4 linked regions of the Homo sapiens genome follow. The protein of the gene in region 2 purifies or fractionates together with the protein of the main gene of each other region. This does not show direct contact. Each region holds a gene or a part of one and is shown on either strand. Other genes may lie near its edges. The genes, in order: EIF4G1, EIF3B, EIF4E and EIF3H.

Region 1 (7,624 bases), on a different chromosome or scaffold from region 2:
CAAAAAGAACATAGGTCAAGACAAGACAAGCCAACTCTGGGCAATGACCAGAAGGAAGTCCCACCTCTGGAAAAGCAATGGAACTGGAGGGTCAGGGTGAGTTAAGTGAGAGGTATAGGGGTCTGTGGCTTCTAGGCTCCAAGCCCCCAGCCTCACCTGTCCAGGGATGTAGTAGGCCCCCTGGGAGGCTGGGTAGGAGATCTGGGAAGGGATCATCATTACTTGGGATCCAGCAGGGTAGACATGGGCAGCTGGGCCAGGGCGGGCAGGGGCTGCACTCTGCACTCGGGAGGCTGCACTGCTCGGGGGCTGGGCCCGGCTAGGGTAGAAGTGCTGTCAGGAGGGAGGAAAGCAGTTGGCATTGTAAAGAGAAGGAAGTGGACAAAAAATTGCCACTCCACAATGTCTCTATAGCCTGGAAAGAAGTACTGTGGGCTTCAGAACATGGCGACCAATCCTTCCAAGACCACTTGACCAAATGGCTAAGCGGCTTCTTGTACACACACATGCCCTCCAAACCTCCAAATTCAGATGTACACTTTGCATCCTGCAGAGATTTACTCTCTCACTGCCATGCATACACACGTCACCTCTACCAAACTACCCCTCTGCAGAGGCTTCCTAACACCGAGATGCATCATGCCTAAGTAAGGCCCTTTCGGGCAACATATCCCCAGCATGCACTGCTCCACCAGCATGTAATGAGGAGCTAACCATAACATGCAACAGCATCCCAGTCCCCAGATGCGCGTTCTTCAAGATGTAGCCCCTAACATGCATCACTCGGCCTCCAACTGAGAACCTGGACACCAAACAAGTCACTACCCTGAAGATCCCCATTCCCTGTGTCTAGCCCCTGACTAGGGTGGAGGGTAAGGATGAGACCAGAAGACTGTCCAGGGTTGGGAAAGGGATATTACCTGCAGAGACCTGAATCCTCCCTGAGAGCACATGGGGATAGGAAAGAAGAGAATTACCCCCAAGGTGATGGCGGGGGGAGGGAATGAAGGCAATAAGACAGGACAAGAATCCTCCCACTTAGTAAGGAAGAAGCTGGGGAACAGAGAAAGGCAAGGACCAGCTGGAGTGTTTACCTCACCACAGTCCAAAGAGAAAGCAGAGAGAGCAATAGAGCAATAGCAGCCTCCGGTAAAAGGAGCAAATAGGAAAGCAAGAGCTGGCAGCAGGGCCCAAAGCACTGCCCCCAATTCTCAGAGGCACTAGGATCCCAGTAATGCCACCCTCATTGACAACATACTATCCAAGGGACCAGCCACCGTGAGTAATCAACAGGGCAAGGCGCAGAGCCGCATGAAAGAACACAGAGGATTAAGGCCAGGTATGGGGCCTCCAGTTTCCATCCTAGACCTAAACTGGCCAAAGCTTTCCACTGCTCCCACCCAGGTCCCCTACTCCCCTCCCCACAGCCCCTCACCTGGCGGGGCTGAGAAGGCGTGTTCATTTGTGTCGCTTGTGGCGTACTGAACACCACCGGCGCTGTCTGCCCCGGGGGAAACGCTGGCTGAAGAGGGGAGACCAGAGTTCAGCAAGAGGGGAAGCCCAGGTGGGGCAGAAACCCAAGCTGGTGAAATAAGGGGAGCAGATCTGCGGCAAGAGCCTTAACAATCCACATACCCCCTCCCCGTGACAGCCCCCGGGGACAGCCCAGGGGCCCTGTCTCAATTTGGCAGCAGGCGGCTGCACTTTGCCCTGACACAGATGGGGGTAGGAAGATCCAGAGGCTGGAGACTGCCTGGTCTCCCCCACCCCCACCCCTGCTAATTCCTCCCTAATTACCTGTGGGAGTCCGGGGGATGGGGCGGGTGGGGGGCCTGTGGACTGTGGAGCTTTGTTCATTTCATTTGGTGCCACATCAGGGTCCCCCCAGCACCTGTTGGGAAAGAGTGGCGCTCAGGAAGAGGAAGGGACCCAAGCTTAAGGCAAATGGGGCGGTGAAAGGGTTGATGCAAGGGCTGGGTCCCATACGGAGTCCCAGAGATGCCAAGAGGGTGAAGCAGAAAAGATACAGCCTGTCCCCACCAACATGCTGTCAAACCCGCATCACTTCCAACCAACCCCTGACCTACTGAAACAGACCCCTCACTCACCCCCTCGATTAAGAACAAGTCCACGGTGCGGCCTACAGGTTCTGGGCATCCGAGGGCCTGGGGTTGGGAGGTGAGGGTATCAACCTGGCTCCGCGGGGCCCCAGACCAACCAGACCGGAAATTCCAGGTCTCGCTGGCACCAGGCTCCCGGATCACGAACGGAGCTAGCTGCTTCGGCCGTGGCGTCCCCACCCCCCACCCGGGGACACCGGGTTCGGGCCTGGCCCAGGGGCACACAGGATACGCCTGCCGCCGGGGAACCCGCACTGGGCCAGAAGCTAGGCCTGCCGCCGCCCAGGAGTGTAGGCCAGGAAGGGCGGGAGTCAGGCCCTAAAAGGCCAGGCGGGCGGCGGCCGTCGAGGAGCCGGTTTCAGGCAAGTGAGGGTCGGCCCGGAGGGCGGGCGGGGCCGGGGGCTCCTCCCTGCCCGCCGCCACCGCCTCCCTCCCCTGCGCCCTCCCTGCGCAGCGCGGGCCAGTGCCAAAGAACAACGTGTCACTTCCCGGCGGCCTGGCCGCGAAGGGGGGAGGGGGCGGCGGGCCGGGAGCCGTGGTGCCTGCGCCCGTGGGCTGCCGGGCCTCCTCGGGTCAGGCCGAGGTGGCATTTCGCGGCGACGAACCCGGCGCCCTACCAGCCCGCGGGGCCCGCATAGTCCGGCCCTGCGCTCCCCACCCCCACCCAGCAGCCAGGCCCGGCCGGGCCAGGCACACGTGGGCCGGGGATCGGGACCCTGGCGGGCCGGGGCCCTGGGTCGGGCCGCGGGGCCAGGGCGCCGGGGCGGCGGCGCAGGGTGGCCGGTCCCGGCCCGGATGGCGGCGGATGCGGGGGGAGGGGGTGGGGGGGCCGGGTCGGGCCCGGACATGGCGGCTTTACCTTCAGTCTCCTTCAGTCCGCGCGGCCGAGCCCCACGCAGCCGCACAGACGTAGTCCACAACCATTTCCGGCTCCCCGCACAGATCCCGCTCGGCGGCCACCGCTTCTCCGCAGGCGCAGCCGGCGCCCCCACGTGACCGGCGCAGGGGGCGGAGCCGCGCCGGGCGATCTGCGCCGCCGAGCACATGGGATTTGCCCCCGCCCCGTCACGTGACAGCCACAGCCCGCCCCCGTGTCCCCTCCCGAACTTTGAAACTCCCAGACCGATTCCCCTCTGTGTTTCTCTCTGTTCCGCGATTCTTTAGTTCATTCATATTTTAAGCAACCATTTATTGAGTGCATGCTAAGTACAAGGCGAAGTGCTGGTTGAGGGCTGAGAAACTGAAATCAAAGTCTCGGCAAAAAAAAAAAAAAAATAAGCGGGGCGCGGTGGCTCACACCTTAATCCCAGTACTTTGGGAGGCCGAGGTGGGCGGATCACGAGGTCAAGAGATCGAGACCATCCTGGCCAACATGGTGAAACCCCGTCTTTACTAAAAATACAAAAATTAGCCGGGCGTGGTGGCGCACCCGTAGTCCCAGCTACTTGGGAGGCTGAGGCAGGAGAATTGTTTGAGCCCGGGAGGCAGAGGTTGCAGTGAGCGGAGATTGTGCCACTGCACTCTAGCCTAGCCTGGCGACAGGGCGAGACTCCATCTCAAAAAAAAAAAAGAAAGAAATTAAAGACTCCGTCCTGCCTAAGTAAATCGTGATACAATACGAATTATGCAGGCTTTGAAAATAATTTAGATTAGGTCATTGAAAGGCCAATAACAAAGGAAATTAAAAGGATAGAAACATTCTAATTAGGCAAGTAGTATGAGATTTGTAGTTTAAAAAGATCATGGGCCGGGCGCAGTGGCTCACGCCTGTAATCCCAGCACTTTGGGAGGCCGAGGCGGGCGGATCACGGGGTCAGGAGATCTAGACCATCCTGGCCAACATGGTGAAACCCCGTCTCTACTAAAATACAAAAAATTAGCTGGGCCTGGTGGCGCACGCCTGTAGTCCTAGCTACTCGGTAGGCAGAGGCAGAGAATTGCTTGAACCCGGGAGGCGGAGGTTGCAGTGAGCCGAAATTACGCCACTGCACTCTAGCCTGGCGACAGGGTGAGACTCCATCTCAAAAAAAAAAAAAAAGAAAGAAAAAAAGAAATTAAAGACTCAGTCCTGCCTAAGTAAATCGTGATACAACACGAATTATGCAGGCTTTGAAAAGAATTTAGATTAGGTCCTTGAAAGGCCTATAACAAAGGAAATTAAAAGGATAGAAACATTCTAACTAGGCAAGTAGTATGAGATTTGTCGTTTAAAAAGTTAGAAACATTCTAACTAGGCAAGTAGTATGAGATTTGTCGTTTAAAAGGATCATGGGCCGGGCGCGGTGGTTCACGCCTGTAATCCCAGCACTTTGGAAGGCCGAGGCGGGCGGATCACGGGGTCAGGGCGGATCACGGGGTCACCATCCTGGCCAACATGGTGAAACCCCCATCTCTACTAAAATACAAAAAATTAGACGGGTCTGGTGGCGTGCGCCTGTAGTCCCAGCCACTCAGGAGGCAGAGGCAGAAAACTGCTTGAACCCGGGAGGCAGAGCTTGCAGTGAGCCAAGATTGCGCCACTGCACTCTAGCCTGGATGACAGTGAGACTCTGTCTCAAAAAATAAAAATAAAAATAAAAAATAAAGGCAGGCACGGTGGCTCACGCCTGTAATTCCAGCACTTTGGGAGGCCAAGGCAGGCAGATCACCTGAAGTCAGGAGTTCGAGAGCACCCTGGCCAACATGGTGAAACCTCATCTCTACTATAAATAGAAAAATCAGCCAGATGTGGTGGCAAGCACCTGTAGTCCCAGCTAGTGGAGAGGCTAAGGCAGGAGAATCGCTTGAACCTGGGAGTTGGAGGCTGCAGTGACCTGAGATCACAACTGCATTCCAGCCTGGGCAACAGAGTGAGACTCTGTTTCAAATAAATAAATAAATAAATGAAATAAAATATAAAAAGAGCAGACACTCCCACGGAGGGGCAAAAGCGTAAGGATGGAAGAATAAGGACAGAAGAGAAGTAATCTTAAAACTGACAGCCGGTCGGGGGCGGTGGCTCACGCCTGTAATCCCAGTATTTTGGGAGGCTGAGGCAGGCGGATCACCTGAGATCGGGAGTTTGAGACCAGCCTGACCAACATAGAGAAACCCCGTCTCTACTAAAAATATACAAAAATTAGCCAGGCATGGTTGCGCATGCCTATAATCGCAGCTACTCAGGAGGCTGAGGCAGGAGAATTGCTTGAACCCGGGAGGTGGAGCTTGCGGTGAGCTGAGATCCTGCCATTGCACTCCAGCCTGGGCAACATGAGCGAAACTCCGTCTCAAAAAAAAAAAGAAAAAGCTGACAGAGGCCAGAAGGGACCATCATCTACAGCCAAATCCACAGGTCAGATTGCTTGAGTTTTCATCCAAACTCTGATACTTATTACCTGGCCAGAATTTGTTAACTTTCCCTACTCAATCAAGTCCCCCAAATATATTGTTGCTTACGTAATAGATAGTGCCTAACCTGAAAATCTGGGATTCATCCTATATTCCTTCTCCATCCACACACTACATCTAATCAGACACCAGGTCTTACTGGTATTTGGATCAAAATCAAGTCCTATTGATCTTATCTTTTAAAAAATAACTATTCTACCCTTCCCTATGTCCCCATTTCAACTGCCTTAGTTCAAGCATTCATTTTCCTTGCCTGCTCTCCTGTCCTCCAGGGTTAGCTTTCTCACCCAGATAGCTGATCATGTCACTTTTCTGCTCTCATTCAGTGGGCCCCATTGAAAGATACTGTCAAATTCTTAGCACAACAAAGCTCTTGTAAACCTAGTCTGAGCCTGAATTTCCAGCTGTATCTCCTACCACCCTTTTCCCTGGCCCCTATACATTTAGCCAAACCAAATTATCTGTAAGTTTCTGAAAACAGCTTTTCCTCCTTCTTGCCTTTGCTACTCCCTTAGCTATATTCTGCCCTCTTTTCCTCTGTACAAACTTATCTTCCTCTAAGGATATAAGCTTCCTCAAAGTCCCCCGATTGCCCCAGGCACTTAGGCCCCATCTCAGTGATACCAGGGTACCTTGTTCACACCCTGGTAAGTATCGATCACAGTTGTTTTCATCATTTCATTAAACTTTTTGAGCATAGGGGTTTTTTTCTGTATTTGCATCCCCATAAATTAGACGAATGTCTGATGCAGAGTAAGGCTCCACTGCTATTCACTGATGAATGAAGAACTAAAGGTGAAAGGTTAAAAGCCACTATGAAACTGTCTTATTCTAAAGCACAATCACCTAAATCACAATTTGGGAGAGAATCATTCTTTTTAGTTTACAAATCACTTTTTATTCTAACATCACCACCACTGGAAATCAGGTAAGGCAACTACTATATCCACATTATATAATAACAGAGGCTCATCACATCACACATGCTAACTTGAAGATTATGGCAGGAACCATAAAGGGGCTCAACAGGGATTCCTTAATCCTGTTTCAACCTTTTTATACAGGCTGCCAAGATGACTCAATCCAAAATTGCTGATGTCTCATGCCTGTAATCCCAGCTACCTGAGAGGCTGATGTGGGAGAATCACTTAAGCCTAGAAGTTCAAGGCTGCAGTGAGCCATGATCATGCCACTGCACTCCAGCCTGGGCCACAAAGTGAGACTTTGTCTCTAAAAAAATTTAGTAATAAAATAACTGGGCCAGGTGTGGTGGCTTACACCTGTAATCCCAGCACTTTGGGAGGCCGAGGCAGGTGGATCACAAGGTCAGATCGAGACCATCCTGGCCAACATGGTGAAACCCCGTCTCTACTAAAAATACAAAAATTAGCAGAGCATGGTGGCGCATGCCTGTAGTCCCAGCTACTCAGGAGGCTGAGGCAGACAGTCTCTTGAACCCCAGACGCAGAGTGAGCCGAGATCACGCCACTGCACTCCAGCCTGGGCAACAGAGCACGACTCTGTCTCAAAATAAATAAATAAATAAATAGCCAGGCATACTGGCTCATGCCTGTGATCCCAGCACTTTGGGAGCTGAGGTGGAAGGATCCCTTGAGGCCAAGAGATTGAGACCAGCGTGGGCAACACAGCAAAACCCCCACCTCCACAAAAATAAAAGTAGGCCAGCTGTGGTGGGTCATGCCTATAGTCCTAGTTACTACTTGGGAGGCTGAGTCAGGAGGATCACTTGAGTCCAGGAGTTTGAGGCTACAGTGAGCTATGACTGTGCCACTGCACTCCAGACTGAGTGATAAGAGTGAGACCATTTCAAAAAAAAAAAAAAAAAGCCAGAAGTGGTGGTACACACCTGTAGCCCTACCTTACCTGCTTGGGAGGCTGAGGGTCAAGCCTTCTTGAATCCACTTTCTACAAGGACATCCTAGAAGTAGATGTTAACATGATCAAATTCCTCATAGCAGCCTCCCAAGAGGGACAGATGGTTGCGGGAGGTAAAGATGTCCTTTTCATTCAGTAGCACGTAAGTCAAGTTAGAAAAGTATGAGGCTGCCCACTCTTGGGCATCCTTAGCCCAAGGTCAGAAGATGATAGGCTTGAAG
Region 2 (7,170 bases):
TGAGCCATTTGGGAGTGAGTTGAAATAACATGTCCCTTTAGCCCTGAATGTGTATTCCTAGAAATAGGATTTTGTTAGTGTGACCATAGTGTGGGTACTGACTTCAGGGATTTACCATTCATTTAATACTTCAATGTATTGCCATATTCTGATTTTGTTACTTGACCTAATAATGTTCTGTATAATACTTACTTTCCTTCAGTTCAGGATCTAGTCTAAGGTCACGTATTTTACAGATAATAAATTGTCCTTCCTCTATCACCCAGGCTTGGCGCCACCCAGTGGCACCATTGCAGGCTCATTGCAACCCCAGCCTCCCAGGTCAAGCGGTTCTCCCACCTCAGCCTTCCTGAGTAGCGGGGACCGCAGGCACACGCCATGACATATGGCTAATTTTATTTTTTGTAGAGATGGGGGTCTCACTTTGTTGTACAAGGTAGTCTTGAACCCCTGGGCTCAAGTGATCTCCTGCCTTGACCTCCCAGAGTGCTGGGATTACAGGCGTGAGCCACCGCACCTGGCCGAGCCGTGATTTTTGATCTAGCTAATCCGGCTGTCGGAGGCCTGCTAGGGAAAGGGGCGGTTGTGGGAGGCAGTGTGAGGCGAGCTGGGGCCACTCTAGGGAAAGGGACAGTTGTGGAAGGCAGTGTGAGGCGAACGGGGGCCACTCTAGGGAAAGGGGCAGTTGTGGAAGGCAGTGCGAGGCGAGCTGGGGCCGCTCTGTTTTCGCCCTCATGGGTTGTGTCTGCCTTCCCCTCTGGTGTTGTAAGGGACCGTCTGTTACACACTTTGTGTGAACTGAGTAAGCAGGTGCAGTAGCTCCAGACAAGCCAGCAGTCAGGTAAATCATGGCTGGGAGGAGCCCCCAGGCTCTGAAGTTTCTATCAGACCTGTGCTGGCTTTCGAACTGGATGGGACTTGTTTTTTTGTTTGTTTGTTTGTTTGTTTGTTTTGTTTTTTTTTTTTTTGAAACTGAGTTTCATGCGTCGCCCAGACTGGAATGTAGTGGCACGATACCAGTTCACTGCAACCTCCACCTCCCGGGTTCAAGCTATTCTCCTGCCTCAGCCTCCTGAGTAGCTGGGATTACAAGTGCCTGCCACCACGCCCGGCTAATTTTTGTATTTTTAGTAGAGACAGGGTCTCACCATGTCGGCCATGGTTGGCCAAGCTTGTCTTAAACTCCGGACCTTGGGTGATCCACCCACCTCGGCCTCCCAAAGTGCTGGGATTACAGGTGTGAGCCACTGCGCCCAGCCGTATTTTTTTAACTTGTTAGTCTTTATTAAACATGGGTAAAGATAGAGTTCCACACTGCGCCACCCTCTGGATCACTTAGCAGCCTTGTGTGGGATCGGTGAGATCTTCTGTGCTGATCTTGGAGAAACCGGAGCGCCTGCAGCGTATTGACACCAGAATGAACAAGCGCCGCTGCTTCCCGCTTCCGCTTGGGTCTCTTGGGGCCGGGCAGTGTGGGGTTTGGGGAGAGAGCTGGTTCCGCGAGTTCTGACGGCGTGTTCTGGCCGCACAGACAGACTGTGATCCTCTCGTGAGAGGAGGATAGTGTACAGTGTTGCCCTTCTCTTCTAGGTACCTGGTGACCTTTAGCCCCCTGATGGACACGCAGGATGACCCTCAGGCCATAATCATCTGGGACATCCTTACGGGGCACAAGAAGAGGGGTTTTCACTGTGAGAGCTCAGCCCATTGGCCTATTTTTAAGTAAGTGGACCATTGTAACGAGCTCTGTAGCCTTTGTCTTTTCATGGGAATACCCTGGCACTTTTGTTTTTCTTAGGTGGAGCCATGATGGCAAATTCTTTGCCAGAATGACCCTGGATACGCTTAGCATCTATGAAACTCCTGTAAGTGGCCTCAGTGATGGCAAACGCCCCGTCCGGTCCTTGCTTGTAACCGGGGTGTGGTGCCTTTCCTTATTTGTGCTAGAAGAGGAGGAGGAGGTTTCACAGATGCATAGGAAAGGCCTGTCTCCTGTGCCTTTTTAACTGCCCCTGCTCTGGGCAGAGCTCTTCAGTCACTCCTGCCCACCTGGCGCAGCCGTGGGAAGTCCTGGATGGGAGTTAATGCAGTGGGCTTCAGAACTGCAGTTCTGGGTGGCGGGTGGGTGGATGGGTTCACTGTCACGCTCTGTGTGCACTGCCCCCTAGGCAAACTCACATCAGACTCTTGTTTCCTTTTGTAAAAAGTTAGGTGTGTTTCTGAGACACTGACATGATTTGACTCAACTGCAGCCTTCCTTTTTTTTGGGCAGTCTATGGGTCTTTTGGACAAGAAGAGTTTGAAGATCTCTGGGATAAAGTGAGTATTCTTATCAGTTTGGTGTCTTAGTGTGTTCAGGCTGCTTAACACAATACCAAAAAAAAAAAAAAAAACACAATACCATAGGCTGGGTGGCTTATGACAGCTGAGATTTCTTTCTCCCAGTTCTGGAGCTTGGGAGCTTGAGGTCAGGGTGCCTGCAGACTGTCTGGTGACGGCCCACCTCCCTCCTAGTGGACAGCCCCTCGGTCCAGCCTTCCCTGGAGGAAGGCCTCCGTGGCCTGTTCTGTAAAGTCTCTCATCTCATTCCCAAGGGCTTCCCCCTCAGGACCTCCCACCCCCCAAAAGGCCCCACCCCATGCCGTCACCCCAGGGGGTTAGAATTTCACCCTGTGAATCTGGGGGACACAGACGTGGTCCATTGCAGTTGGTTTCCTTTATTTGCTGTCTCTCCTTTAGCACTCAGCTTTTTGTTGTTGTTGTTAGAGACAGAGTCTCGCTCCGTCAGGCTGGAGTGCAGTGATACGATCTTGGCTCGCTGCAACCTCCACCTCCTGGGTTCAAGTGATTCTTCTGCCTCAACCTCCCGAGTAGCTGGGACTACAGGCATGTGCCACCAAGCCCGGCTAATTTTTGTATTTTTAGTAGGGATGGGGTTTCACCATGTTGGCTGGGCTGGTCTCAAACTCCTGACCTTGTGATCTGCCCGCCTCAGCCTCCCAAAGTGCTGAGATTACAGGCGTGAGCCACCATGCCCAGCCTGTCACTCAGTTCTTAACCAGTTGGAGAGAAAACGGTGAGTTTGTTCTTTTTTTAAAATTTTTTTTTTTTTTTTTTTTTTTTTTTTTTTTTTGAGGCAGAGTCTTACTCTGTCTTGCAGGCTGGTGTAGAGTGGCGAGATCTTGGCTCACTGCAATTTCCACCTCCTGGGTTCAAGTGATTCTCCTTGCCTTAGACTCCCAAGTAGCTGGGACTGCAGGTGCCTGCCACCATGCCTAGCTAATTTTTGTATTTTTAGTAGAGATGGGGTTTCACTGTGTTGGCCATGCTGGTCTCAGAACTCCTGACCTCAAGTGATCTGCCCACCTCAGCCTCCCAAAGTGCTGGGATTACTGGCGTGAGCCACCACACCCAGCCATTTTTAAATCTTTTTTGAGACAGAGTCTTACTCTGTTGCCCAGGCTGGAGTACAGTGGCGTGATCTCGGCTGACTGCAGCCTTCACCTCCCAGGTTCAAACGATTCTGGTGCTTCAGTCTCCTGAGTAGCTGGAATTACAGGCGCGCAACCACTACGCCCAGCTAATTTTTTGTATATTTTAGAAGAGTCGGGGTTTCACCATGTTGGCCAGGCTGGTCTCGAACTCCTGACCTCAAGTGATCCGCCTGCCCGCCTCAGCCTCTCAAAGTGCAGGGATTACAGGTGTGAGCCACCGCGCCCGGCCTAAGGTGAGTTTGTTCTGGACACAAGGATGGAGGCTTGAGTCAGTGGGCAGCAAGGCTGCTCAGCATTGGGCCCGCCACCCTTGAGGCACCACTTCAGTGACCCCTTCCCGTGCCTAGAAATGAATTTTCAAGGCCAGAGCCTTGAGTCGGCTTCCTTCCATCTACCTCGTCTTTGATCTAGAAACTGAGGAGGGTGGGGTTTCCAGCCTTTTAAGGAAAAGAGGGGACTCTGCTTAGGTGAAAGGTTTTCCTGGTACTCTTCCATCCGAGGCAGGGTTTGGGGAGCCTTCGGCTCATTTTCACCAGCAAAGAATGGGCACGTTTTTATTTATCGCAAAACTTGGGACTGGTCAGTATCACGGCAGTGAACTTCCAACAATCCAAGGACATTGACGTTTCTTCTTTCGTTTTTACATTCTTGGGCAAAATTATGGCTTATAAAATGAAAAGACCAGGACGTTGGTTCTCAAAAAATGCAAAACAGCACATAGCGTGTATAAAGATGTTTTTCATGTAGGTGAGCTCAGGAGCCGTTCGTTACAGCAGCTCTTCTGTAGAGTAGTTGATAAAGTGGAGGGAGCTGCCCTTGTTCTTGCTCATTCCTTACACTTGATTTGCCATTTTCCCCATTTGCACCTTAATTAATCTTTAGATGACATGTAGCCAGATCCGTCAGCCTAAAACTTATTTGCCTCAAAGCAGCAGTGTGCGGTGTCTTAAGAGTGGGCTGACGGAGCCCAGGCTGGAGTCCATATGAGTCTGTGCGTGATGGTGGGGTTGCTAATATTCTGTCTGCATTCACTCCTTGTCACAGTGAGCACAGTAGTGCCACAGGGTCCTGGCGAGGACCTATGAAGCTGCGCGGCATGCCCAGAGCAGTGGCTGTGCAGAGGGAGCGCTCAGCGTCAGCTGTGACAGCATTGAGCTTCTATATAGCAAATGAGTTGTTCTATTCTCTTCTGCTTTTCAGTTTCGTCATCACTTGGTCTTTGCTTTAACATTTTATTTTCCTGTTCTGCAGAGACTTTTCTTGGTCTCCTGGTGGTAACATAATCGCCTTCTGGGTGCCTGAAGACAAAGATATTCCAGCCAGGGTAACCCTGATGCAGCTCCCTACCAGGCAAGAGATCCGAGTGAGGAACCTGTTCAATGTGGTGGACTGCAAGCTCCATTGGCAGAAGAACGGAGACTACTTGTGTGTGAAAGTAGATAGGACTCCGAAAGGCACCCAGGTATGTAGATTCCCACAGGAACTGACGATTCCTTATCCTGAGCTCTGAAGTGGCCACCGTATTGTTTGGAGGGTGTTAATGGATTTTTTTTTTTTTTTTTTTTTTTTTTTTTTGAGATGGAGTCTCACTCTGTCACCAGGCTGTAGTGCAGGAGTGCGATTTCGGCTCACTGCAGTCTCTGCCTCCTGGTTTCAAATGATTCTTCTGCCTCAGCTTCCCAAGTAGCTGGGACTATAGGCGTCCACCACCACGCTTGGCTAATTTTTGTATTTTTATTAGAGACAGGGTTTCACCATGTTGGCCAGGCTGGTCTTGAACTCCTGACCTTAGGTGATCTGCCCGCCTTGGCCACCCAAAGGGCTGGGATTACAGGCGTGAGCCACCGTGCCTGGCTGAGAATATTATTTTCTTTCTAAGCACAAGGAGTAGTATACTCAAGATTTATTTTTTTATTTTTTTATTTTTGGTGGTTGATCATTTAATATTTATTTTATCAAAAAATTGCCTGAGTTGGCTGGGTGTAGTGGCCCATGCCTGTAATCCCAGCACTTTGGGAGGCCGAGGTGGGCGGATCATGAGGTCAAGAGATTGAGACCATTCTGGCCAACGTGGTGTGAAACCCCATCTCTACTAAAAGTACAATAATTAGCTGGGCGTGGTGGGAGGCTCCTGTAGTCCCAGCTACTCGGGAGGCTGAGGCAGGAGAATCGCTTGAACCCAGGAGGCAGAGCTTGCAGTGAACAGAGCGAGATTGCGCCACTGCACCCCAGCCTGGCGACAGAGCCAGACTGCGTCTCACAAAAAAAAAGAAATTCCTGAGTTTTCCCTCTAATAGAAGTATTCTTCTTTCTTTTATGTTAAGAAAGCTTTAATTGACATGTAGTTCACATGCCTGAAAACACCCCTTTAGAGTGGTGAACTGGTTCAGTGGTTTTTCGTGTGTTCAGAGTTATGCAGCCACCACCACTCATTTCAGAACGTTTTCATCGGCTGGGTGCGGTGGCTCCCCCGGGGTGGGAGGGAGGATAGCTTGAGGCTAGGAGTTTCAGACCAGCCTGGGAAACACAGTGAGACCCCATCTCCACAGATAATTTTTAAAAGATAGGAAAAAGGCCGGGCACGGTGGCTCACGCCTGTAATCCCAGCACTTTGGGAGGCTGAGGCGGGGCATCACAAGGTCAGGAGATCGAGGGTTTAGTAGAAACCCCGTCTCTACTAAAAATGCAAAAAATTAGCCAGGCGTGGTGGCGGGTGCCTGTAGTCCCAGCTACTCGGGAGGCTGAGGCAGGAGAATGGCGTGAACCCGGGAGGCGGAGCTTGCAGTGAGCCGAGATTGCACCACTGCACTCCAGCCTGGGCAACAGAGTGAGACTCCGTCTCAAAAATAAATAAATAAATAAATGTTTTTGTCACCCTACAAAGAAACAACATACCTGTTAGCAGCCTCTCCGCCCAGCTCCTGGCATCACGAATGTCTATGATTTCCCTATTCTGAACACACAGCTGGAATCGGATACTATGCCACCTTCTGTGTTTGACCTCCTTCACGGAGCACAGCGTTCCCACAGCTGGTCCACGGTGCTGAGTGTCAGCAGTAATCTCTTGTTGGGTGGACCCCGTTTCTTGGCCTCCTTCCTCTGTTGATGGACATCAGGGCAGTTTTCCCTCAGACTCCTCGAGTAGGGCAGGACTTCTTGAAGGTTATGGCTACAGGACACCCCACTGTCTGAAGTGGTTTACCCAGCCCCATTGGTGTGCCTTTAGGGCCCTCAGGACCCTGGCCTGCAGCCTGCAGTGTGGACCCTGGGACTGCTTGTGCCCAAGTGTGGCGGGCAGGGCGGCTCCTGGAGGTGGGATCTGGGTCAGAGTTACTTCATGCATGTCCAGTGGCTTCCAGTAGACGTGGTGCCGGCAGTTCTCCAGCCTTAGAACCGTCTTCCATCCTGAGGGCTGTGGCTTTCATCACTGCACATGCTCGTGTGTGAACCAGGCATGCACACTGAATCTTTCATTGTGACGTTGATCTTTGATTTAAACCTTTTCTCATATTTTCACTGTCCAGAATGTCACCCCTTCCCCCTTTTTTTTAAACAGGGTGTTGTCACAAATTTTGAAATTTTCCGAATGAGGGAGAAACAGGTACCTGTGGATGTGGTCGAGATGAAAGGCAAGTTGTATTTTAGTCACTTTGAGGCGAATGGGGCCTACGTGCTG
Region 3 (7,761 bases), on a different chromosome or scaffold from region 2:
TAAACAAACAAACAAAAACTCTTTGCACCCTATAATTGTAAAAGCATAAAATGTTGGCACACGGATATATTAGAATAGCAGAAGAGGTTTCCCTTAAAAAATTTTTTTCTTTTTCTTTTTCTTGATTTTCTTTTAAAAATCAAGGTGCCTTTTTAGCCAGTAGGTAGTGCCTCAGTCTCATAAAAATCACCAAGGAGAGAGTAAACAAAAAACTAACTAGAATAATAAAATAATTTTTTAAATTCCAATTCTGCTCCAATCTTTTAATATTCAAAATTCCTTGGTCATGTTTGCGTACATCCCATGTTTTTAAGCAATGTCCTGAGTAGGTAATGGGAATTGGTGTCTCTCAAACTGTAAAATTAAAATAAGGGTTCACAGTGGCTCAGGCCTGTAATCCCAGCACTTTGGCAGGCCGAGGCGGGCAGATCACGAAGTCAGGAGTTCGAGACCAGGCTGGCCATCTCTACTAAAAATACAAAAGTTAGCCAGGTGTGGTGGCACGCACCTGTAGTCCCAGCTATTTGGGAGGCTGAGGCAGGAGGATCGCTTGAACCCAGGAAGCAGAGGTTGCAGTGAGCCAAGATCTGGGCAACAGAGTGAGACTGCATCTCGGGAAAAAAAAATTACATTTGAGTTTTCCCCAAATATTTGATAGCAATCTATCTACAAATCATCAATGAGCTAATATTTTAGTAGTAGGGTCAATCAACAACTAATTAAATAATGTTTAACAGCAAGTTTAGAGTTAGGGTTATGAAGTGGCCTAAAGAAAACCAAAGCAGAGTGAGGGGATAAAGAGTAATGGAAACAGTAATTTAGATAGGGTGGTCAAGGAAGCCTTCCTTCAGGAGATCACATTGGAACAGAGGCCTGGATGAAATGAGGGAAGGAAGTATATGATTCGCTCATTCATTATGTGAATGTGTGCTGGTTATGGTGCTTGTTAACTGCATCCTCTTGGTTCTTAGTCACACCTCTTTATATGGGTACTGAACTATTTATATTTCTATGACTTAGTACGCCAACCAGATTTTACAGTCGGGGAAGGAAGTGCCTGTACTTCCTGTGTCCTTTAAATATCCTCCACTGGTTACATAGTTCCCATTACTAACTTAGTACTTGTTGGATGGTTTCTGGTCAGTTCTGTAAATGAACTTGGAATTACAAGTCCTTTGAAGAGCAATAAAGAATAATAGAGAATAAATAGAGAAATAAAACATAAAATTTCAGCTCTATATATTTAGGATTGGCAAAAACAAAACAAAACAACCACATACACACATACATAAAAACCTAATCGTTAAATCTTTGAAATGGTAGAATCTCAAATAGGCAAAGACACATTAATGGTCATAAAACACACACAACAAAGTATATACAAAAATGGAGATTTTCCTGAAACTCTGTGCTTGAAAATTATAAAGAAAAATTGTTGAAAACTATGTAAAAAATGGAAAGAAACTAAACCATAAAGAATAGAGCATCCATAAGTATTGTAAAAGTATGAGTCTTGGTTGACAAGAGGGAGTTTTTTTTTTTTTTTTTTTTTTGAGACTGAGGGAGTGCAGTGGCGCGATGTCCGCTCACTGCAAGCTCCACCTCCTGGGTTCACTCCTTTCTCCTGCCTCAGCCTGCCGCGTAGCTGGGACTACAGGCGCCTGCCACCATGCCCAGCTAATTTTTGTATTTTTAGTAGAGACGGGGTTTCACCGTGTTAGCCAGGATGGTCTCGATCTCCTGACCTCGTGATCCGCCCGTCTTGGCCTCCCAAAGTGCTGGGATTACAGGCATGAGCCACCGTGCCCGGCCCGAGTTTTTTGATTAACAGAAAATTTAATAAAAATGGAAACTGTTGTTTAAAAAAAGTTTTAAGAACATCACTGGCTTTCAGTCCTATAGGTATTTTCTTGCCAATCTCATTGATTTTTTGCTGTTATATAACAGCTTCATGAAAATAGGACATCTGGCCAGGAATGGTGGCTCATGCCTGCAATCTCAGCACTTTGGGAGGCCCAGGTAGGGGGACCGCTTGAGCCCAGGAGTTTGAGACCAGCCTGGGGAACATAGCTAGACGCTCCTGTCTCTGCAAAATATAAAAAAATTAGCTAGGCATGGTGGCCCATGCCTGTAGTCCTAGCTACTTGGGAAGCTAAGGTGGGAGGACCCCTTGAACCCAGAAGGTCAAGGCTGCAGTGAGCCATAATCATGCCACTGCACTCCAGCCTGGGTAACAGAGCAACACCCTGAAAAGACAAAAAGAAAGGAAGGAAGGAAGGAAGGAAGGAAGGAAGGAAGGAAGAGAGAGAGAGAGAGAGAATGGGAGGGGAGGGGAGGGAGGGGAGGGGAGGACAGGGGAGGGGAGGGGAAGAGAAGGGAAGGGAAGGGAGGGGAAGGGTAGGGAAGGGAGAGGAAGGGTGGGGAAGGGTGGGGAAGGGGAAAATAGGACATCTATGCTGTCTTTTTCTCTTCAAAGAAGGTAACCTGACACCACTTCTAACCAGCAGAAAATAACAACGCGGTCAACAGAATTATTTTGGATAGTCTAAGTAACAGTAGATAGTCTCTGTAAGTAGAAATCCACTTATCCGTTTATTATCATTTTTTTTTTTTTTTTGGAAATGGAGTCTCACTGTGTCGCCCAGACTGGAGTGCAGTGGCGGGATCTTGGCTCACTGCAACCTCCACCTCCCAGGTTCAAGTGATTCTCCTGCCTCAGCCTCCTGAGTAGCTGAGACTACAGGCAGGTGCCACTATGCCTGGCTAATTTTTGTATTTTTAGTAGAGACAGGGTTTCACCATGTTGGTCAGGCTGGTCTCGAACTCCTGACCTCAGGTGATCCGCCCGCCTTGGCCTCCCAAAGGGCTGTGATTACAGGCGTGGGCCACTGCGCCTGGCCTGTTAATTCTATCTACTTTAAAACCTAGTAGAGCTAAGCCCACTAGACAAAAGCTTTCATTAATCACTTCTGATATTCAGGTAAACCAAAACATATGAACAGGCAATGGCTTTGAGTTCTCATACAGCCTCAATTATGTGTTAGTCAACTCAAGCATCCATTATGTACTCAATAATAGGTATGACACAGCTCTGGACCTCATTAACACTATAAGCAGACAGGCACAGGCAGCCTGCATACACTCCTTTTCCTGGTGTCAACATTATTTAAAAGCATGGGAAATAGTAATGAGACAGTGTCTTCTTCATTAGAACCTTAGGAGTCTACTAGATTTCTTCATCTCTATTTGTTGTTATTAGTAGCCAAACTGTGCAAAAAACACGGTCTTGAGAAATGACAGCACAGTATCTTAGAGGGAAAGGAAATGTAGGATGCCAGTGTGGGGACAAATTTCTGATTGCCAGTGATTGTTGTGAGCATAACAATAATTTCATGAACATTAAAGCCTCTATTGAGGGCAGCTGCAGTTGTAAAGGAAAAAAAATGGTCCTGAACATTTAAAACTACACTGGTGTACATCATAATCAAACAAAGTAAACAGAAAAAAATTTAAACTTTGCTAAAAAAAAAAAGCAGAAGCACTTGATCTTTAGGAAGGCACGCAGTTGCTTATTATGAATCATTTCTAGAGTCCGATGCATTTTCAAAGCCGGTTACAGTCATTACGAAGCACACCCTTGTGAGGTAAGTGTATCATCACCTTTGGTTCATAAATAAAAAAGCTGAGACGCCGAGCGATTAAGTCACTCGCCTAAGGAGAATGAGTCAACGTCAAGAGTCATAGTTGACCCGGCCTAAAGACTCCAGACCATCAGTCCAGGGCTTAGTCAGCGGGGCCCGGAGTGGCTTCCCTGGCTGGCATCTGGACTTAGGCTATTTCCGTGCACGTAAAAGCGGAATATTGGAACGGTTGCACAGAACTTCCAAATAATTTTTACCGCCACGCAAGATTTAGCCCTGAGGTCTTAATCTCAGGATTTGGGACAGTAAAAGCTGTCGTCCCTCCCCCTCGTCCAGCCGGTGGCAAGCGGGTACTGCGGGCGGTTCCGTCCGTCCCCTTTCGCAGAAATGGCAACGAATGACCACCAGCATTAGCTGAGCCAGGGGACGTGGGAGGGTTGATTGCCTAAACGACTCTGCATCGCCGCCTCTTTTTGAAACTAAGAGAAAATGGTGGGAGATCAAAAGAAAACTAAATAAACACACAGGCAACTTGTCCTGGGACCTCAACTAAGCAAATGAAGCCTTATTGTGTGTGCTGAGCCTGCAGTTCCCAACCTTCCGGGGAAGATGGGAGGACAGGGCGACAAAGGGCACAGTAGGCTTGCCTGGCAGTAAGTGTGACCGCAGCTATCCAGGCGGAAGAGCAGAGGACTGAAACCACCCTCCAGCAAGCGAGTGTCCGCCGCGTTGAGAACCGCGCACCCTACCCATCGGCCACGTGACCAGTCCTTTTTAAAAAAAATTTCTTTACCTTAAAAAAAAAAAAAAAAAAAAGGTGGGGGAGAGACTCCACTTCCCAGAAGCCTCTCGTTACTCACGCAGCCGCAGTCTTGCGCAGGTGCCGCCAGGGCCAAACGGACATATCCGTCACGTGGCCAGAAGCTGGCCAATCCGGTTTGAATCTCATTTTTTTCCTCTTACCCCCCCTTCTGGAGCGGTTGTGCGATCAGATCGATCTAAGATGGCGACTGTCGAACCGGTGAGTATTGCCTTTGGCCCCCACCCCCACGGGTCCCCGCGCTCCGTCTTCCTTCTGACTGGGGGACTCCGCGGGACGGCGTTCCCGGCGCGCACTGTACCCCTTGCCGCCCCTTCCCCTTCATGTTGGACCTGACCTCCCGCGGACAAGTGGGGACGTCCCGGAGGATGGCCGAGGCGGCGTGTAGCGCACACTTTCTGGTGGGGGCCCGAGAACTGGGGGAGCGGTGTGGGGGAGGGGCGGCGTGGCGCCTCCTGCGGAACCGCGAGGTGTCTACAGGGTGGAGGGTAGCTGGGGTTCTGGGCTGGGTATGCGAGGATGGTGTCTTCATGATAGGAAGGCGCAGGGCCGGCTCCCAGCGAGTACTGGGATCCGCAGGCAGGGTGGGCGGCGAGCCGGCCTGGAGTGAGATGGAGGAGGGAGCCCTGGAGCAGCCTTTCCCTCCCTGCAGAACCCCAGCTCCGGGGCTCGGGTGCGGGGCGCGCGCACGTCTTCCTTAGACCGGTGGACTGGGGAGCTGGTGGGCGAGTGTTGCCGGAGGGTGGGTTAGGCGGGAGTGGTGCCGCGGCACGCGCGGAGGAGCTTCGACCTCGCTTAGGGGAGTTGAGAGGGGCGAGCGTCTGTTAATCCAGCGCGCCGGAGAGTTGCCGGTGTTTGCGCCAGGGGAAGCGAGAAAGGTCTGGGGTGGGAAGGAACACTCGTGTGTCACGGTGAAGCTCTCCAAGTAGAATGAGGGATGGTGGTGGTGAGAAGGGGTATCACATTGTCCTCGCCCCTCCATGCTTGGGACTGGGCTGTCATGGAGGAGGGAAGGGGGAGGAGCGAGGCCTACAGATCGCTGTAGCCGGTCGGCTTGCCGGCCGGACCTGCTGCATTTCACACGCGCCCGTCTTCCATTCATTCATCCTTTCCGCGTAGTGCGCACGCCTCAGAGAATGCGAATGGGTCTCAATCCCTCTGTTCTTCCGAGTCTTTATCTCCTGGAAGATTTCTGAGACGCAGTTTATTGGAAATAGAAACTTTTAAATTTACTTTTCCATTTGACTTTTTTTTTCTCTTTATCTATGCTACAGACTTTCATTTCAATTTAGGCACCATTTTAAACTTAACTGAAGCAAGCTGGTCCCAGGGTAGGTTTGTAGTTAATCTTTAAGCAGAGGGTATATTTTTCATAATTTGGGTTTGCCAGGACTGGCTCACTGAAACTTCTGGGCCCTGTTGCCTTTTTAGAAACGACACAGCTAAGTGAAGATATCTTGTGTGCATAATGGGGTTTATTAGCAATCAGAAAACCTTTCACACTCTGGAACCAGCTCTAGACCTTGGTTGCCAGATACTTTTGTGTATCTTTTCATGGTAGCTTGTGGTTTTGCTAATGGTTTACCAGTTTGCTTTGACTTTTAAAGACTTTTTTTTTTTTTTTTTTTTTTTTTTTTTTTTGAGATGGAGTCTTGCTTTGTCGCCCAGGCTGGAGTGCAGTGGCGTGATCTCGGCTCACTGCAACCTCCGCCTCCGGGTTCAAGCGATTCTCCTGCTTCAGCCTCTTGAGTAGCTGGGATTACAGGTGCGCACAACCGTGCCTGGCTAATTTTTGTATTTTTAGTAGAGACGGGGTTCCACCATGTTGGCCAGGCTGGTCTGAAACTCCTGACCTCAAGTGATCCTCCCGCCTCAGCCTCCCAAAGTGCTGGGATTACAGGCGTGAGCCACAGCACCCGGCACTTTTAAAGACTTTTATAAAACTATTTCAAAAACTCTTATAGACTACACAAAGGCTTATTTTTCATTGCGTTGGTGTAAACTATCCTTACCTTGTCAAAATTCAAGGCAGCTTCTCTGCTTGCTTACTTGTTTTTTTATTGGCACCAGTTTTCATTTATGTTCCTGGGAATTAAATTGACTGAAAAACTCATAAGTTGTTGCTACAGTTAACTGACTTTAGGACATTAATATTACATAACACTAATGAAGAATAAGTATGTAAAATATACATTTTAAACCCCTTGACAGGTTCTGATGTCCACTTTTGTCTAGATCTGTTCCTACCCCACTACACTAGTGTCAGTAAAAAGCATTACATCTGGTAATAGGGGCAAGGCTACGAGACTGTAAACTATAAAACAATAAGGAGTTCTGTGAGGTTTCTGTCACATTTAGGTCCCTTGAGTTTTGCAGAGTTTATGCAGTTTTGTTTCAGCAGCACAGAGCGGAACTGCAAAGTGATGAAGGACTATATTTTGAGTTAGTAAATATTAATAGCTCCTGATATATCCAGGGTGTTGTACCAAGTGTTCTTTAGGATACAAAGTTATACAAGATGTGAGTCTTGTTGAATGTAAACCCTTAAGGAACTTAATTCCTAGGGATGTGGTTAGTGATACAGTATTTGTTCTGGTACAGACTTTGGGAGATTTGGATGTTATGTTTAAATTTGGGGAGTAGGGGAACCTAAAAACAAAGTGTGTGAAGCTGGAAACTAAAGTATTTTGAGAATATATGTAAAATAGTATCGAAGTGTTTAGTTTTAGTGAGAAATGAATTTTTTTTTTTTCGATACTGACTTTCACTCTTGTTGCCCAGGCTGGAGTGCAATGGCGCGATCTTGGCTCACCGCAACCTCCGCCTCCTGGGTTCAATCGATTCTCCTGCCTCAGCCTTCCGAGTAGCTGGGATTACAGGCATGTGCCACCACGCCCGGCTAATTTTGTACTTTTAGTAGAGATGGGGTTTCTCCATGTTGGTCAGGCTGGTCTTCAACTCCCGACCTCAGGTGATCCGCCCGTCTTGGCCTCCCAAAGTGGTGGGATTACAGGCATGAGCCACCGCGCCTGGCCTGAAAATTTTTAGTACTTTTAATATACCCTTGTGCACAGGCTAGTTATGTGGAATTATTTTTGACAGTTTTAAATAGTTGGATTTTGTGTGTAGGGGTGCAGGATCTTGCTCTGTTGCTGGGGCTGGAGTGCAGTGGCGCGATCATAGCTCACTGCAGCCTCAAACTCCTGGGCTCAAGAGATGCTTCCATCTCAGCCTCTGGTGTAGCAAGCACTACAGGAGCAGGCCACCACGCCCGGATAATTTTTAAACTTTTTGTAGAGA
Region 4 (7,170 bases), on a different chromosome or scaffold from region 2:
GGTGGATTGCTTGAGGCCGGGAGTTCAAGACCAGTCTGGCCAACATGGCAACACCCCGTCTCTACTAAAAATACAAAAATTAGCAGGGCATGGTGGCACACAGCTACTCGGGAGGCTGAGGGGCACGAGAATCGCTTGAACCTAGGAGGTGGAGATCACAGTGAGCCAAGATCGGGCCACTGCACCCCAGCCCGGTCGACAGAGCAAGACTCTGTCTCAAAGGAAAAAAAAAAAAGGAAAAGTCAGATGGACTTAGAATTACCACCCAATGCAGGTAAACTAACTTACTTAGGGACACGTACCAGTACTCTTCCCAATGCTCCTTAATATGCTGATTTTCTTTACTATTGATCCCCAGTATCTTAATATGTGAACTCAGCAGTTTAAGGTTGCATTTTTCCAAACTTCAGAATATTTACTAAATTGACTTCTTATAGCTACAAATCTTCTACAATATGACTGATTATCAAACGTAAAGATTCTAATGTATGTTTTCTCATACATTTTAAAGTTAGAAGTCTGTAAGACACCTGAGTTCTGAAAAACATATTTCCCAATGCTCAAACAAGAAGCACTAGATTAACTATTCTGTACACACCTTAACTTCTATTTCCTCCATCTGTACATTAATCAAATCACATAAACTATTTGTACCCACGTCTCCCCATTGATAAAATAGGGATAATGATGGTTCCTATATCAAAGAGTTGTTGTATTGCTTCAATGCCATAATAAATACACAATACTTAAAACAGTACCTGTCACATAACACAGAATAACTACTGGGGTCTTCAAGTATATGAAGCTGCTATAAAATGTAAAAGAAAATGAGTCAAGGATGGCTAGATGTGATCTGAATTCAAGCTCCAGGATATATTCACTTTATGTCTTTGAAAAGCCACCCAGCTTCTTGGAGTGGGAGAATCACATGTATAATCCAGATAATACTAGTCCGCCCAGTTCCTGGAGCTACCAAGATATAATAATGTACGCTAAATGATTTTTCTATTATAAAAAGTTACTATTTGTAAGCAATAACATCTTACTTGCCTAAGCAAAAAATATAACTAAGCAATCAAAATGTCAGACTGCATAACGAATTTAATCCTCACTCACAAATACTCAGGTTAGAGATAATCCTGCATAACTGGTTTTTCACTCACAGCAAAAAAAAACCTGAAAAGCAAGGGGATAAGAAACAGATAAATTTAACAACCAAAAAAGGCACCAACTAGAAACATAAACCACTCAAGGCACCTAAAGTTCAACAACAGGGGACATTTATTATAGAAATAACAGACTACCCGAAGGGATTTCTTGACAGATCTACTGTCCTGTCTGGTTCAATAACATGTTTTTTTGTTTTTTTGTTTTTTTTGAGACAGAGTCTCTGCCTGTCGTCCAGGTTGGAGTGCAGTGGTGTGATCTCGGCTCACTGCAACCTCTGCCTCCCAGGTTCAAGCAGTTCTCCTGCCTCAGCCTCCTGAGTAACTGGGATTACAGGCATCCGCCATCATGCCCGGCTAATTTCTTTTGTATTTTTAGTAGAGATGGGGTTTCGCCATGTTGGCCAGGTTGGTCTCGAACTCCTGACCTCAGGTGATCCGCCCACCTCAGCCTGCCAAAGTGCTGGGATTACAGGCGGGAGCACGGCCCAATAACATGTTCTTAATGATAATACTATGCCATCAAAACATGGTTAGATTGTGTTCCATGTTCTCTGACTAAAGCAGCAGAAAATTATGTATTACACTTCAGAAACACATATAATTAAAATAGCTAAAATGTGCAAGTTTTGGTGCTTGAAAGGATTTCAAATTATCTGACTGAAAAAATTATCTCACATGTCAAACAACTTACGTATGCACCACTCAAGTCAGAAAACTGGAAGAAGAGGCCAAGGGTCATATAATTTTTTTTGTTGTTAAAACATTAAAAGGCCAAACTGTATTATACTTCAGACCAGGATCTCAGAGAAGAGCTTCCATTTCAATGGAATTTAAACAAGCTGTTGTCCAGTCTCTTTAAATTCATAAGAGTATCACAAAAAATCTACAGTGACACATGTGATAGCCTGGCATTACAAATTCGAAGTATTTGATTCAACTCACAAAGCATTCCCACCAGCCTGCTGCGGTGGCTCACACCTGTAATCCCAACATTTTGGGAGGCCAAGGTGGGTGGGTCACCTGAGACCAGGAGTTCGAGACCATCCTGACCAACATGGTGAAACCCCGTCTCTACTATAAATACAAAAAATTAGCCAGGCGTGGTGGCGCATGCCTGTAATCCCAGCTACTTGGGAGGCTGAGACACGAGAATCGCTTGAACCTGGGAGGCGGAGGTTGCAGTGAGCCAAGATCCACTTGAACCTGGGAGGCAGAGGTTGCAGTGGGCCAAGATCATGCCATTGCACTCCAGCCTGGGCAACAAGAGCAAAACTCTGTCTCAAAAACAAAAAAAAAAACAAAAACAAAACAAAACAAAATAAAAAACAAAGTACTTCCACCAAAATTTTTCCATTAGATTTGAATAACCATCAGGTAGGTAAGGTAGTGATAACATTTATCCCCAAAGCTGTTGTGAGGATCACAACATCTAAAATTTAACAAAAAATTTAACCAAACAACACAAAATTTAACCAAACATCCCTGTACAGGGTCTTATAATAGGTGTCCAATTAATATTAGTGATTTTTCAAACAGATAAGAAATCAACAAATAAAAAGATGGAGAAATATGAACAAGCCCAGAAAGCTAACTAGCTTATCCTCAACTGTGTGCTCTTTTCTCACCAACACTCAAGCATTTACTAACCCAGTTTCTTCATGATTGATTTTCAAGAAAATTTCCACACAACAGGAGTATATTCATTCATTCACAACATCTGAGTGCCTTCTATACACGAGGTACTGTTCTAGACCCTTAGAAATACTGTAGTGAACAAACCTGACATGGGTGCCACTTTCAGGAAGCTGATATTCTAGTGTGAAGAAATAAGCAACAAGTAAAAAGAGTTTCAGACAGAAACAAGGACCAAACTGGATACCAAAATTCGCAGATGCTCAAGTCCTTTATATAAAATGGTGTAGCATTAGTTATTGCATATAACCTAGGCACATCTTCCTATATATCATCCCTAGATTGCATATAACATTTAATACAATGTAAATGCTATGTAAATAATTATTATACTGTATTGGTTTTTATTTGTATTTTTAGTTGTTTTTTTCCTAGTATTTTCGATCCATGGTTGGTTGAATCCATGGATGTGAGATTGCTGGATTCAGAATCCAAAGATATAGAGAGCTGACTGTATATGTAACTCATACTTTTCTATTTATTAATAACATACTCTACCTTACTTACAAAACCAGGGGAATAAGGTATCTAATAAGATAACTTAAAGGGGAAAACAAAATTTAAAAGGTAAGAAATTTCAATAGCAATGGGTTTCAAGCACTGAATTATGGAGGAGACAAATGTTTTATACTTCAGCCTTCAAAAGGGTTATCATCTCAATGAGAAGGGGAAAATATATTAACAGTAAATCACTAACAGTATGGATCACATACCAAGGTGAATGATACAAGCTGTCATTAAAAAGCTCAGAGAAAGGAAGAGAGCAAGCTTCTTCTCAAACAGTAAAATGCTATAAATCACCTGATTGTGTAGGTCAGGAGAGGGGCCTGAGATTCTGTGATACGTATGTCTGCATTTCTAACAAACTCAAGTGTAGCCAACATTGCTCATCTTACTGGACATGGATCATACTTTGAATAGCAAGGTCTAATGAACATAAGAAAGGTAAAATTCAAATGTTCTAGGGAACAAAGTGGGTTCAACATGAAAAGTTTAACGGGAAGAATTAGCTTGATCTTGTCTAGGAACAATGAGACCACCTGACAGAATGAAGACCCATTCTTTCTTTATTTTTGTTTTTTTTCTTTTAACTCATCTGTATTTGTTACAACTTTAAGCAGAATGTGACTCAGGCACTACATTTCCATCCACAAGACTAGCTCTGAGTTATTTTTGAACAGCTTTACGACATGCTTAGGTAGGCTTATAACTTTGCTCCTCCAAATGATACTTTTCTTTGGAAAACAAGCCCTGTGGAGGGCTTACTTTTCTTTGGAAAACAAGCCCTGTGGAGGGACTGCTACATTACAGATACAGAGGAAGTGATGAAACAGGTCTAAAGGTAGGAAAGGAAGGGTTCAAAAATACAAGAAAAATTGGTCTTGGCCACTATCAATGTGCCAGGAAGGAACAAATGTGTTAAAACATCAGGCTAAACATAGGATGAGATTAATCTCTGGGTTCATCTACATCTATATATGACTGAGAATGGTCATGAGAGTCGGGACTGGGTTCTACCTTGCTCACCTATATAATATCTTATATAGGTTACTGCAATATACCCCAGCATGTAGCAGGGCTAGACCTGGCATGTGGTCGGCAATCAATAAATATTTGTTAAATGAATGAAGAACAGAATACATCTGGAGTATACAGATTCAAGTTAAACTATATGGAGAATTTTTAAAAAAACAGAGTAAGTCGATTAAGTCACATTTTTTATTCAATATGTGATGATGAAAGAGAACAATTTCAAAGAGAAAGAACTTCATGAACAAAAGCAAGGTCATGCTTACTGCTTTGAATAAGGATGTGACTCTAGGTCTGTCTTTAGCATGACTTTTTTTTTTTTTTTTTTTTTTCTGAGACGGAGTCTCGCTCTGTCGCCCAATCTGGAGTGCAGTGGTGCAATCTCGGCTCACTGCAAGCTCCGCCTCCCCGGTTCATGCCATTCCCCTGCCTCAGCCTCCTGAGTAGCTGGGACTACAGGCACCCGCCACCACGCCCGACTAATTTTTTGTATTTTTAGTAGAGACAGGGTTTCACCATGTTAGCCAGGACGGTCTTGATCTCCTGACCTCGTGTGATCTGCCTGCCTTGGCCTCCCAAAGTGCTGGGATTACAGGCGTGAGCCACCACACCTGGCCTTTAGCATGACTTATTAAAGAAAAAACTAAGTAGTCTGAGGGGCTGGAATGTACAGTTCCTACAAAGCTTGGAAAGAAAGGAAATAAACCTGAACATAAATGCAAGAAACAAGGACAACATTTTGGTCCTTCAATTCAATGGAAAGTCACTGAAAACATCTAAGGAAAGAAGTTAAAATCTGAATGTTCACGTTAAATAAACGTTTTAATAAAAGTATGAGGCCGGGCACGGTGGCTCACGCCTGTAATCCCAGCACTTTGGGAGGCCGAGGCGGGCGGATCACGAGGTCAGGAGATCGAGACCATCCCGGCTAAAACGGTGAAACCCCGTCTCTACTAAAAATACAAAAAATTAGCCGGGCGTAGTGGCAGGCGCCTGTAGTCCCAGCTACTTGGGAGGCTGAGGCAGGAGAATGGCGTGAACCCGGGAGGCGGAGCTTGCAGTGAGCCGAGATTGCGCCACTGCACTCCAGCCTGGGCGACAGAGCGAGACTCCGTCTCAAAAAAAAAATAAAATAAAATAAAATAAAATAAAATAAAAGTATGAATGGTAGACTGAAGAAGGCAGGGGAAAACAATATTAAAATAACCTGCATAAGATATTAGAACATAAATTAGTATAAATAATAAAATGGAATACATACTCATTCATTTATCCTACTTTGTGAATTAACAGGTTCAGCACTGGAGATAAAACAGGTGAAAAAGCATAGTCCCTGCCCTCAGTAGCATACATTCTGATGAGGAAAACAAAGAAGAAAACAAACAAGATAGTTACAGGCTGTGGAAAATTCTAGAAATATAGGGTGCTGTGATGGAAAGTAAGGAGAAGAACAAGTCTATAATTCTATTTTGTACATGTTAAATATGAGATGCCTATGAGATATCCAAATAGTGACGTCAAACAGGCAATGGGTATTCAAAAGAGGCATTCAAGAGCCATTACTGGCAGAAATATAAATCTAGGACTTATTAGAATATAAATATTTAAAGCCGTGAGCACAGATAAGAATACCTTAAAGAATACTACTATAATTACTGCAAATAAAGCAGCAGCAAAGCTTAAATGGTGACTTATTCTGTCCCAGACATTGTTCTAGTTATTGACATATATTCAATCCATTTAAAGTCTCAAAACAATTCAGATGAGGAAAATGAGGCACAAAGACTTGCCCAATGTCATGCAGCAAATTTCAGAGCTGGGATTCAAATCCAAGCAGTCTGGCTCCAGAGCATGTACTTTTATCAACTTCGTTACACTACCTATGTCAAGCAGAGACTAAAAGAAAAGCCAAAACCTAAACCATGAGGCACTCCAATATGCACAGATGGAGAAGAAACATAAAAGGAAAGGAGTAAGTGGCCTAAAAGGAAGGATAGTGATTGACTGGGGTCACACACCAATAAGAACCCTCAGGATTCAGGTATGAAAGCAAAAGAAAGAAACCATAAACCATGAAAATTGATAGGGATAGTGGCAATCATTTTGTGGATGAGAAAATGTACCTTTGGAGTAAAACAATCATAGAAGTGTTGTTAGTTACTGGTGGATGCAGACTGGAATGCATGTCTCCTGATTACCAGGAGCACTGAAGTGCTCTTTCTACAATTCCAATCTACATTAGCAAAGTTAGCATTCGAAATGATTTGAGAAACATTAATAAGGATGAGAGTGGTAAAGACACAGTAATCTGAGTGTTTACGATGACACAGGTACTATACTAAACACTTTAAATACCTCGGAATTTCATTCTCACAACCCTTATGAGTTACTACTTTATCATCATCCCCATTTTACAAAGGATACACCTGAGGCCTAGAAAATTTAATAACTTCCCCAAGGTCATGCTTACTGCTGGAATAAGGATCTGAATCCAAGTCTGTCGTCAAGATTCTCTTGGCTAGTATGTAATATTGCTTTCCTAAGAGTAACACTGTTCATCAAGACAGAAATGAAGAAAGAAAGAAAGAAAGAAAGAAAGAAAGAAAGAAAGAAAGAAAGAAAGAAAGAAAGAAAGAAAGAAGAGAAAGAAAGAAAGAAAGAGGGAGGGAGGGAGGGAGGGAGGGAGGGAGGGAGGGAGGGAGGGAAGGAAGGAAGGAAGGAAGGAAGGAAGGAAGGAAAGAGAGAGAGAAAAGAAAAGAAAAAAGAGAGAGAGAAGAGA

The links.
Region 1: the proteins of EIF3B (region 2) and EIF4G1 purify together in Homo sapiens (affinity purification with western blotting; 7 studies listed by BioGRID and IntAct, with this or other methods). This does not show direct contact.
Region 3: the proteins of EIF3B (region 2) and EIF4E purify together in Homo sapiens (affinity purification with western blotting; 5 studies listed by BioGRID and IntAct, with this or other methods). This does not show direct contact.
Region 4: the proteins of EIF3B (region 2) and EIF3H purify together in Homo sapiens (affinity purification with mass spectrometry; 12 studies listed by BioGRID and IntAct, with this or other methods). This does not show direct contact.

Annotation. Positions count from the first base shown.
Region 1 is NC_000003.12:184,310,030-184,317,653, reverse strand, and holds the start of EIF4G1 (eukaryotic translation initiation factor 4 gamma 1), read right to left. Parts: upstream 3,049-7,624; 5' UTR 2,980-3,048; intron 2,491-2,979; exon of another isoform or gene 2,166-2,490; 5' UTR 2,109-2,165; intron 1,892-2,108; 5' UTR 1,858-1,891; coding exon 1,798-1,857; intron 1,583-1,797; exon of another isoform or gene 1,523-1,582; coding exon 1,436-1,522; intron 942-1,435; coding exon of another isoform or gene 921-941; intron 334-920; coding exon 157-333; intron 1-156.
Region 2 is NC_000007.14:2,364,727-2,371,896, forward strand, and holds part of EIF3B (eukaryotic translation initiation factor 3 subunit B), read left to right. Parts: intron 1-1,590; coding exon 1,591-1,722; intron 1,723-1,798; coding exon 1,799-1,865; intron 1,866-2,207; coding exon of another isoform or gene 2,208-2,231; exon of another isoform or gene 2,232-2,246; intron 2,247-2,272; coding exon 2,273-2,319; intron 2,320-4,745; coding exon 4,746-4,956; intron 4,957-7,050; coding exon 7,051-7,123; intron 7,124-7,170.
Region 3 is NC_000004.12:98,925,996-98,933,756, reverse strand, and holds the start of EIF4E (eukaryotic translation initiation factor 4E), read left to right. Parts: upstream 1-4,623; 5' UTR 4,624-4,644; coding exon 4,645-4,662; exon of another isoform or gene 4,663-4,784; coding exon of another isoform or gene 4,785-4,862; intron 4,863-7,761. UniProt on the Homo sapiens protein: Acts in the cytoplasm to initiate and regulate protein synthesis and is required in the nucleus for export of a subset of mRNAs from the nucleus to the cytoplasm which promotes processes such as RNA capping, processing and splicing.
Region 4 is NC_000008.11:116,745,703-116,752,872, forward strand, and holds part of EIF3H (eukaryotic translation initiation factor 3 subunit H), read right to left. Parts: intron 1,425-7,170; exon of another isoform or gene 1-1,424.